Regions from separate parts of the Homo sapiens genome. Here region 2 is reported to be linked to region 1. Evidence: microRNA targets listed by miRTarBase, many of them from high-throughput screens and not tested one by one. Region 1 holds a microRNA gene; the other region holds the end of a gene's coding sequence.
Evidence for each region. Region 1 holds the annotated microRNA hsa-miR-423-3p (AGCUCGGUCUGAGGCCCCUCAGU, at 2,833-2,855, opposite strand). A microRNA usually pairs through its seed, bases 2 to 8, with sites in the 3' UTR of a target mRNA and lowers its output. Matches are read on the target gene's strand: a 7mer-m8 pairs with bases 2 to 8, a 7mer-A1 pairs with bases 2 to 7 and ends in A, and an 8mer does both.

Region 2: miRTarBase lists C22orf42 as a target of hsa-miR-423-3p. The part of its 3' UTR that is shown has no 7-base or 8-base seed match.

What each region holds. Positions count from the first base shown.
Region 1 is chr17:30,115,986-30,119,985 of GRCh38, reverse strand. It overlaps MIR423 (microRNA 423), which reads right to left and starts at 2,907; the gene lies at 2,814-2,907. It overlaps NSRP1 (nuclear speckle splicing regulatory protein 1), which reads right to left and starts at 3,170. Exons shown (of 7, transcript NM_032141.4): 1 at 3,123-3,170; 2 at 1,813-1,906. The coding sequence starts at 3,142. MIR3184 (microRNA 3184) reads left to right here and starts at 2,826; the gene lies at 2,826-2,900. RefSeq lists silencers at 2,738-2,807, 2,744-3,345 and enhancers at 3,058-3,157, 3,188-3,287, 3,308-3,427, 2,460-3,659.
Region 2 is chr22:32,145,879-32,150,059 of GRCh38, reverse strand. C22orf42 (chromosome 22 open reading frame 42) reads left to right here. Exons shown (of 9, transcript NM_001010859.3): 8 at 280-307; 9 at 447-1,054. The coding sequence ends at 520. Among named protein-coding and RNA genes, the nearest start is that of C22orf42, 11 kb to the left of the region's middle.

The DNA.
Region 1 (4,000 bases):
GCATATACATTTGTCAAAAATCATCAAGCTGTACACTTAAAATCTGAGCATTTTATATGTAAATTATACCTCAATTTTTAAAAACTGTGAGCCATAAAGAGCCAATGTCTTCAAAAGTAGCAAAGAAATATCAAATATGTTAAATTATCCACCCATGCTATTATATAATAAAAACTGAAAACCGGTCAGGCACAGTGGGTCATGCCTGTAATTCCAGCACTTTGGGAGGCCAAGGTGGGTGGATCATCTGAGGTCAGGAGTTCGAGACCAGCCTGATCAACATGGTGAAATCCCACCTCTACTAAAAACACAAGAATTAGCCAGGCGTGGTGGTGTGTTCCTGTAATCCCTGCTACTCAGCAGGCTGAGGCAGGAGAAACGCTTGAACCCAGGAGGCGGAGGTTGCAATGAGCTGAGATCGCACCACTGCACTCCAGCCTGGGCGAAAGAGGGAGACTCCATCTCAAAAAAAAGAGGCTGGGCATGGTGACTCATGCCTGTAATCCCAACACTTTGGGAGGCCAAGGCAAGTGGATCACCTGAGGTTAGGTTCAAGACCAGCCTGGCCAACATGGTGAAACCCCGTCTCTCCTAAAAATATAAAAATTAGCTGGGCGTGGTGGTGGGGCACCTGTAATCCCAGCTACTCAGGAGGCTGAGGCAGGAAAATCTACTAAATACAAAAAATATTAAAAATACTAAAAATACAAAAAAATAAAAAAATAAAAATTAGCCAGGCATGGTGGCAGGCACCTGTAACCCCAGCTACTCAGGAGATTGAAGCAGGAGAATCACTTGAACCTGGGAGGCAGGGGTTGCAGTGAGCCAAGACTGCACCATCCCACTCTAGCCTAGGTAACAAGAGCGAAACTCTGTCTCAAAAAAAAAAAGAAAAAAAAATATTAAAACATGATGGGAGTATTGGAAAAGCACATATTTACTGGGTGCGGTGGCTTACGCCTGTAATCCCAGCACTTTGGGAAGCTGAGGCAGGCAGATCACCTGAGGTCAGGAGTTCAAGACTAGCCCGGCCAACATGGTGAGACCCTGTCTCTACAAAAATACAAAAATTAGCTGGTCATGATGGCAGGTGCCTGTAATCCCAGCTACTCAGGAAGATTAGGCAAGAGAATCGCTTGAACCCAGGAGGCGGAGGTTGCAGTGAGCCGAGATCGCGGCATTGCACTCCAGCCTGGGCAACTGAGCAAGACACTGTTTCAAAAAAAAAAAAAAAAAGAGAAAAGAAAAGCACACATTTGGGATTGTTTCTGATATATAACTGTGGGTTTCACAGAAGTAGTTTTGGCTGCTAAAATAGAAAATGTTGATATTAGATGTTACTGTAGTACTATCAAGAGTAACTATTCACTACCACGATTATAACTGAGCAATTACATTTGGCAGACACTGAATTTAAAAAAAAAGTAGCGTTGTTAAGAACTGTTATATAGTGATCTTAGCTCATGGTTAACAAATTAAAAACTGCTTTGCTAATAAAAATTTGTAGAAAATTGGTGACATCTTAATAACTCATACCTAGGGATCTTTACACCAACAATTTTGTTATGACAATTTCAGTAGTCTGAAAAGACCGTGTATTTGTTTAAAGGTAAAGTTTGCAGCTTTTAGAGGGAAAAAAATCTTTAAAAAATCGGTGGAGCTGCTTTCTTTACACCTTCCTTTTTGACAATTCTGTAAATTATACTCCACTGTACTGACAAATAACAAAGGCAAAGGTATCAGAGTCACAAGTTCAATTTTTAAAAAATTTACATTTCCAACCATGCACGAGTAAAACATAGGTTTCCTTACCTCATCATCATCATCAGAATCATTCCCAAACACTGATGGTTTTTGCAAAACAGGGTGCAACTGCTGTGTTTTCTTTGGCAAAATAAGCCCATACCTGCATATATTTTTTTTGAAATAGAAATTAAACCTTTATGTTTAAATGTTAACAAATACATCTACTACCTCTTCCACATGAAGCTACCAAATCAAAACATGTCATAAGCTTTATGAACACGTAACAGACTGTTTTTGCTTCTCAGTGATCTCAAAATTCTAACATGCCGTAAGATTCTATAATTACTACTCTAAGTGATCATTTGTGGACACGGGCCAAACTCGAATACCATTTTTATCAAAGAAGAGAAGTAAATGAAAAGTTCAGAAATGTTTTAAGATGGCGAAGTGACAGTAACATTTAAAAAAAAAAAAAAAAAACATGTGTAGTGGAAAGTTTAGTTCATGTCCACTAAAGATTTTAAAATGCTTTCAACTATCCTTGTGGTCTAAACAGTCAAGAAAATGGCTAGATTTTTTTTCCTACTGTGTACTTACACAGTTTCTAAGAACTGACTGGATAGTGTAACTCACGAAAATTTTTAAAAGATAACTGAGAAACCCAAGTAGCCATGGGGCAAGTTCGCATTACACTTTATTAAGATCATGTGCTTTGCCTCGGAGCATCTGAGAGAACCATCCCATCAGATCCAACTCCTTTAGTTTCTCACGTTTTGGCCTTTAAGATGCGGAGATCACGGGAGGCCGCATCAAAAGTAAGGATTACACATCAAAGGTAAAACTTTCAAGTACGTACAGTATTTGTCTCTTTTGCGGCAACGTATACCCCAATTTCCTATATGCCTACCCTTTTTCTGTGGCTTCTCAGAACAATATTCCTAAAACGAGAAGGAAGGGCGGGAATCAGGACTTGAGCTTCTGCCAAGGAGAACAAGGCCCTCTAAGGAAGCCAGGAACTGTCTCTCTTCACACTGCCCCTGAGAGCATCCAAGCGGGGAGAAACTCAAGCGCGGGTTAGGAAGCAAGACTGAGGGGCCTCAGACCGAGCTTTTGGAAAATAGAAAAGTCTCGCTCTCTGCCCCTCAGCCTAACTTCCTTTATTTCCTCACAAGTTTCTCCCTCAAACTTCGGGCTTCCATCCGGGAAAATGTACGGGGGAGGGGAATCTATGTTCCTCAGGACTTCTCGTTTTTTCCCGTCTCTACCCTTGACGACACAGTCCCTTCACTTCCAGCGCATTTAAAACTCCTCGGCCAAAGATACAGTCGCCGTAGTTTCTCATCCCCCAGCCTGACCCTAACTCCCGGATCACTCACTGCCTGCCCGGAATCGCCATCTTGCTCCCGTGTCCGCTGAACGTGGCCGACGCCTCCGTGACGCTGACGCCGATGTCGTCACGTAAACTCTCGCGCGGCTTTGGGTGGCCCGGATCCTGCTTGTCGGTTGAATCGCTGGTTTGAGTCACTTCTATGGTACTGGGAATCGGATCCAGTGACCTCTGTTTTGTTTCGGAGCCCACCGGCTGCCTCAAAATCTGTAGGAGAAAGGAATGACAACGTTCTAGGCCAGTTGTTCGCAGTGTGTGGTTCTGGGACCAGCGGCATCAGCAACACCGGAGATACTGTTAAAATGACAAATTCTCGGGCCCTACCCCAAACCTGCAGAATCAGAAACTTTGGAGTGAAGCGAGTTATCTGAATTTTAACCAGCGGGTAATTCTGATAAAGTTTGAAAACCACTGCCATGGCTATCGATATTCCCCCTACCCCCTTCCAAGTGTTCACTTTAACTGGTTCAGGATAATTAGGCGAAAAATGAAAATCTGTGTATTAATAATACCTTACATAGGACCAAAATTATTATTAAAAAAAAAATTTTTTTTTTGAGACGGAGTTTCGCTCTTGTTGCCCAGGCTAGAGTGCAAAGGCGCGAACTCGGTTACCTCAACCTCCGCCTCCCGGGTTCAAGCGATTCTCCTGCCTCAGCCTCCCGAGTAGCTGGGATTACAGGCATGTGCCACCACGCCCGGCTAAGTTTGTATTTTTAGTAGAGACGGGGTTTCTCCATGTTGGTCAGGCTGGTCTCGAACTCCCGACCTCGGGTGATCCGCCCGACTCGGCCTCCCAAATTGCTGGGATTACAGGCATGAGCCACCGCGCCCGGCCCAAGGACCAAAATTATTAATAATACTGTT
Region 2 (4,181 bases), not on the chromosome of region 1:
CATCACTTACAAACTATCTGGTAGTGAGCATATTTCTCAGTAGCAACTTTTTCTTCTTGAAAAATAATTTTGTGTTTGCCAGCCAACATGGACTTACTAAATATTCCATGAAAACCCATTGCCTTTTCCACACACATCGTCTATGCTTCATTCGGGGGGCCAGTGACTTGATCACTGTTTGACATGTTGTTTTCTACGTCACCAAGTGAATAATAGACCTGTGCCAACAGGGCCCAGCATGATCCGATCCTCATGGCGTTTTCCTTTCTCCTATTGCAGGCAAAGGAGAGATATGAAGATTACCTCTGTAAGTATATATATATCTAGATATATATAGATATATATGTAGATATAGATATAGATATAGATATGTAGATATACATATATGTAGATATATATATATATATATTTTTTTTTTGAGATGAAGTCTTGTTCTTTTCCCCTAGGCTGGGTTAAGATGGCACGGTCTCGGCTCAATGAACCCATCAGCAGCCAGGTTCTAGGACTTCTCCGGCTTTAGTGTTCCAAGTAGCTGGGATTACAGACGCCTGCCATCACGCCCAGCTCAAATCATTTTATGAATGCATATTTCCATCTGGGTGAAAAAAAAATCACAAGCCTCTCTCTCTTCCTACTGAGCACCTGTGAACAGTGACCTGCAGTTTGTGGCTGCAGCCAGTCCTCTTGCAGCCTGGTGTTCTTACATTTCATTCTGAGGCTCACATTCTCAGTCACCATGCAGAAGAACACCCGCCCCATCCTGGGTCATTACAGAGTGGGTCAATCCATCTGCTGCATCTGAAGAGCTGGGTCCAGCTTCTACAGTGAATCCATATATTTCTGTATTTCCTGGATAAGGAAGAGCAAAGGAGCTGAGCTGGTGGAGGAAGAAGAACTAATATTAACTGACTCCTTATTTTGTGCTAGTACTGTGCTAGTTACATATTTTATCTCATGTAATTCTTACCAAACTGTAAGGGGGTTTCGGAGTGATGGAGACAATATTGATGTTATCTCCATTTTAGGGTGAGAAAATAAAGGCTCAGAAATGTTATATTACTTGCCCAAGGTCACTCAGCTGCTAAGAGCCAGGATATGAAACAGAAGCTTTACATTAGAAGGGTTCAAATTTATTTTCAATTTCCCTGCTCCATTCTGAATAGGTATTGGCATTTACCCTTGGGCTATGTAGAACAAGTGCTTTGTCACCAAAACATCTATTGTGAACTCTTTCTGCCCTAGTAGGATTCGTGCATTTTATCTTCTTCAAAGTAAAAACCTTTAAGAGCCAGGAATCTGCCACACTGACTCTCAACTTAAATCTCAGCCACTTTTACCTTAAAATTCAGACTTGTGTAGACCTCTCTAGAAGACTTGGTGGACTAATCTTTAAGAGTTCATTTGCATGAGGGAGGAAGAGGAGCCCACATTTGGACCAAAGACATGCCTAGAAGTCGGCGCAGGAGGGTCAGCAGGAAGTCTGTTTCTTAGAGTTCCTCCAGCCCAGTCTGAGTGGTAGAAATCAGGAACTGAAAATAAATCTGAAAGGTGTTTGAAATCATGGTGAGACATGGGTAACATAATATATTGGGGGTTTGTGTTATAAATGAGGCTATTTTCGTATGTTTAGTATTTTGTATTTTTAGTAGAGATGGGGTTTCACCATGTTGGCCAGGCTGGTCTCGAACTCCTGATCTCAAGTGATCCCCCTACCTCAGCCTCCCAAAGTGCTGGGATTACAGGCGTGAGCCACCGTGCCCAGCCATATATATTACATATATATATATATATATATATATATATATATATATATATATATGTACACACACACACACACACACACACTTACGGTGGGCCAGGCACAGTAGCTCATGCCTGTAATCCCAGTACTTTGGGAGGCAGAGGCGGGCAGGTCACAAGGTCAGGAGATCGAGACCATCCTAGCTAACACGGTGAAACTTCATCTCTACTAAAAATACAGAAAATTAGCCGGGTGTGGTGGCGGGCACCTGTGGTCCCAGCTACTCGGGAGGCTGAGGCAGGAGAAAGGCATCAACCCGGGAGGTGGAGGTTGCAGTGAGCCAAGATTGCGCCACTGCACTCCAGCCTGGGCGACAGAGCGAGACTGCCTCTAAAGAAAAAAAAAAAAAAAAAAAATATATATATATATATATACTAAATACATATAATATATTATTGGGGGACCTGCCCTGATAATCACGTAGATTCTTTTCTATTTTTCCTAAGCGTCAGCTGGCTTGAGAAATAAAGGGACAGAGTACAAAAGAGAGAAATTTTAACACTGGGTGTCCGGGGGAGACATCACACATTGGTAGGATCCGTGATGCCCCACAAGCCACAAAAACCAGCAAGTTTTTATTAGGGATTTTCAAAAGGGGAGGGAGTGTGCAAATAGGTGTGGGTGACAGACATCAAGTAATTAACAGGGTAATAGAATATCGCAAGGCAAGTGGAGGCAGGGTGAGATCACAGGACCACAGGACGGAGGCGAAATTAAAATTGCTAATGAAGTTTCAGGCACCATTGTCATTGATAACATCTTATCAGGAGACAGGGTTTTGAGATCAACCGGTCTGACCAAAATTTATTAGGCGGGAATTTCCTCTTCCTAATAAGCCTGGGAGCGCTATGGGAGACTGGAGTTTATTTATCTCTGCAGCCTTGACCATAAGAGACAGGTACGCCCCAGTGGGGGGGGCAGTTCAGAGACCTACACCCAGGTGCGCATTCTCTTTCTCAGGGATGTTCCATGCTGAGAAAAAGAATTCAGCGATATTTCTCCCATTTGCTTTTGAAAGAAGACAAATATGGCTCTGTTCTGCCCGGCTCACCGGTGGTCAGAGTTTAAGGTTACCTCTCTTATTCCCTGAACAATTGCTGTTATCCTGTTCTTTTTTCAAAGTGCTCAGATTTCATATTGCTCAAACACACACGCTGTACAATTTGTGCAGTTAATGCAATTATCACATAGCCCTGAGGCGAAATACATCCTCCTCGACTGACAAGATTAAGAGATTAAAGTAAAGACAAGCATAGGAAATCACAAGGGTATTGATGGGGGAAGTGATAAGTGTCCATGAAATCTTTACAATTTATGTTTAGAGATTGCAGTAAAGACAGGCATAAGATTAAAAAAGTATTAATTTGGGGAACTAATAAATGTCCATAAAATCTTCACAATCCACATTCTTGTGTCATGGCTTCAGCCGGTCCCTCCGTTTGGGGTCCCTGACTTCCCGCAACAATATATAAATATATATATATAATATATAAATATATATATAATATATACATATAAATATATATAATATATAAATATATATAATATATACATATAAATATATATAATATATACATATAAATATATATAATATATAATATAGATTATATTATATATTATATATATAATCTATATTATATACTATATATAATATATATATTATATACTATAGATTATATATAGTTATATATAACTATATAATATATAACATATATTATATATTATATATAATCATATATATAATTATATATAATATAATTATATATTATATATTATATATATTTATATATAAATAATAAATAAATATATATTTATATATCAAATATATAAAAATATATTTGATATATAAATAATAAATATATAATATATAATATATTATATATTATATTATATTATATATTATTATATATTAATTATATATAATATATATAACATATATATTATATTATATATATTATATTATATAATATATAATATTAATAATATAATATATATTATATATTATTATATATTATATAATATATTATATGTTATATAATAATATATAATATAATAATATATAATATATTATATTATATAATAATATATATGTTATATAATATAATATAATATATATTATATTATATTATATTATATTATATATTATATAATATATAATATATTATATTGTATTATATTATATATATGATAATATATTATATTATCTAATATATATCTTATATATTATCTAATATATTATCTAATATATATTATCTTATTTATTATCTAATATATAAGATAATATATAATATATATTATATAGTTATATAGTTATATAATTATATATAATATATATTATATATTATATAAAACATATAATATATATTATGTAAAACATATA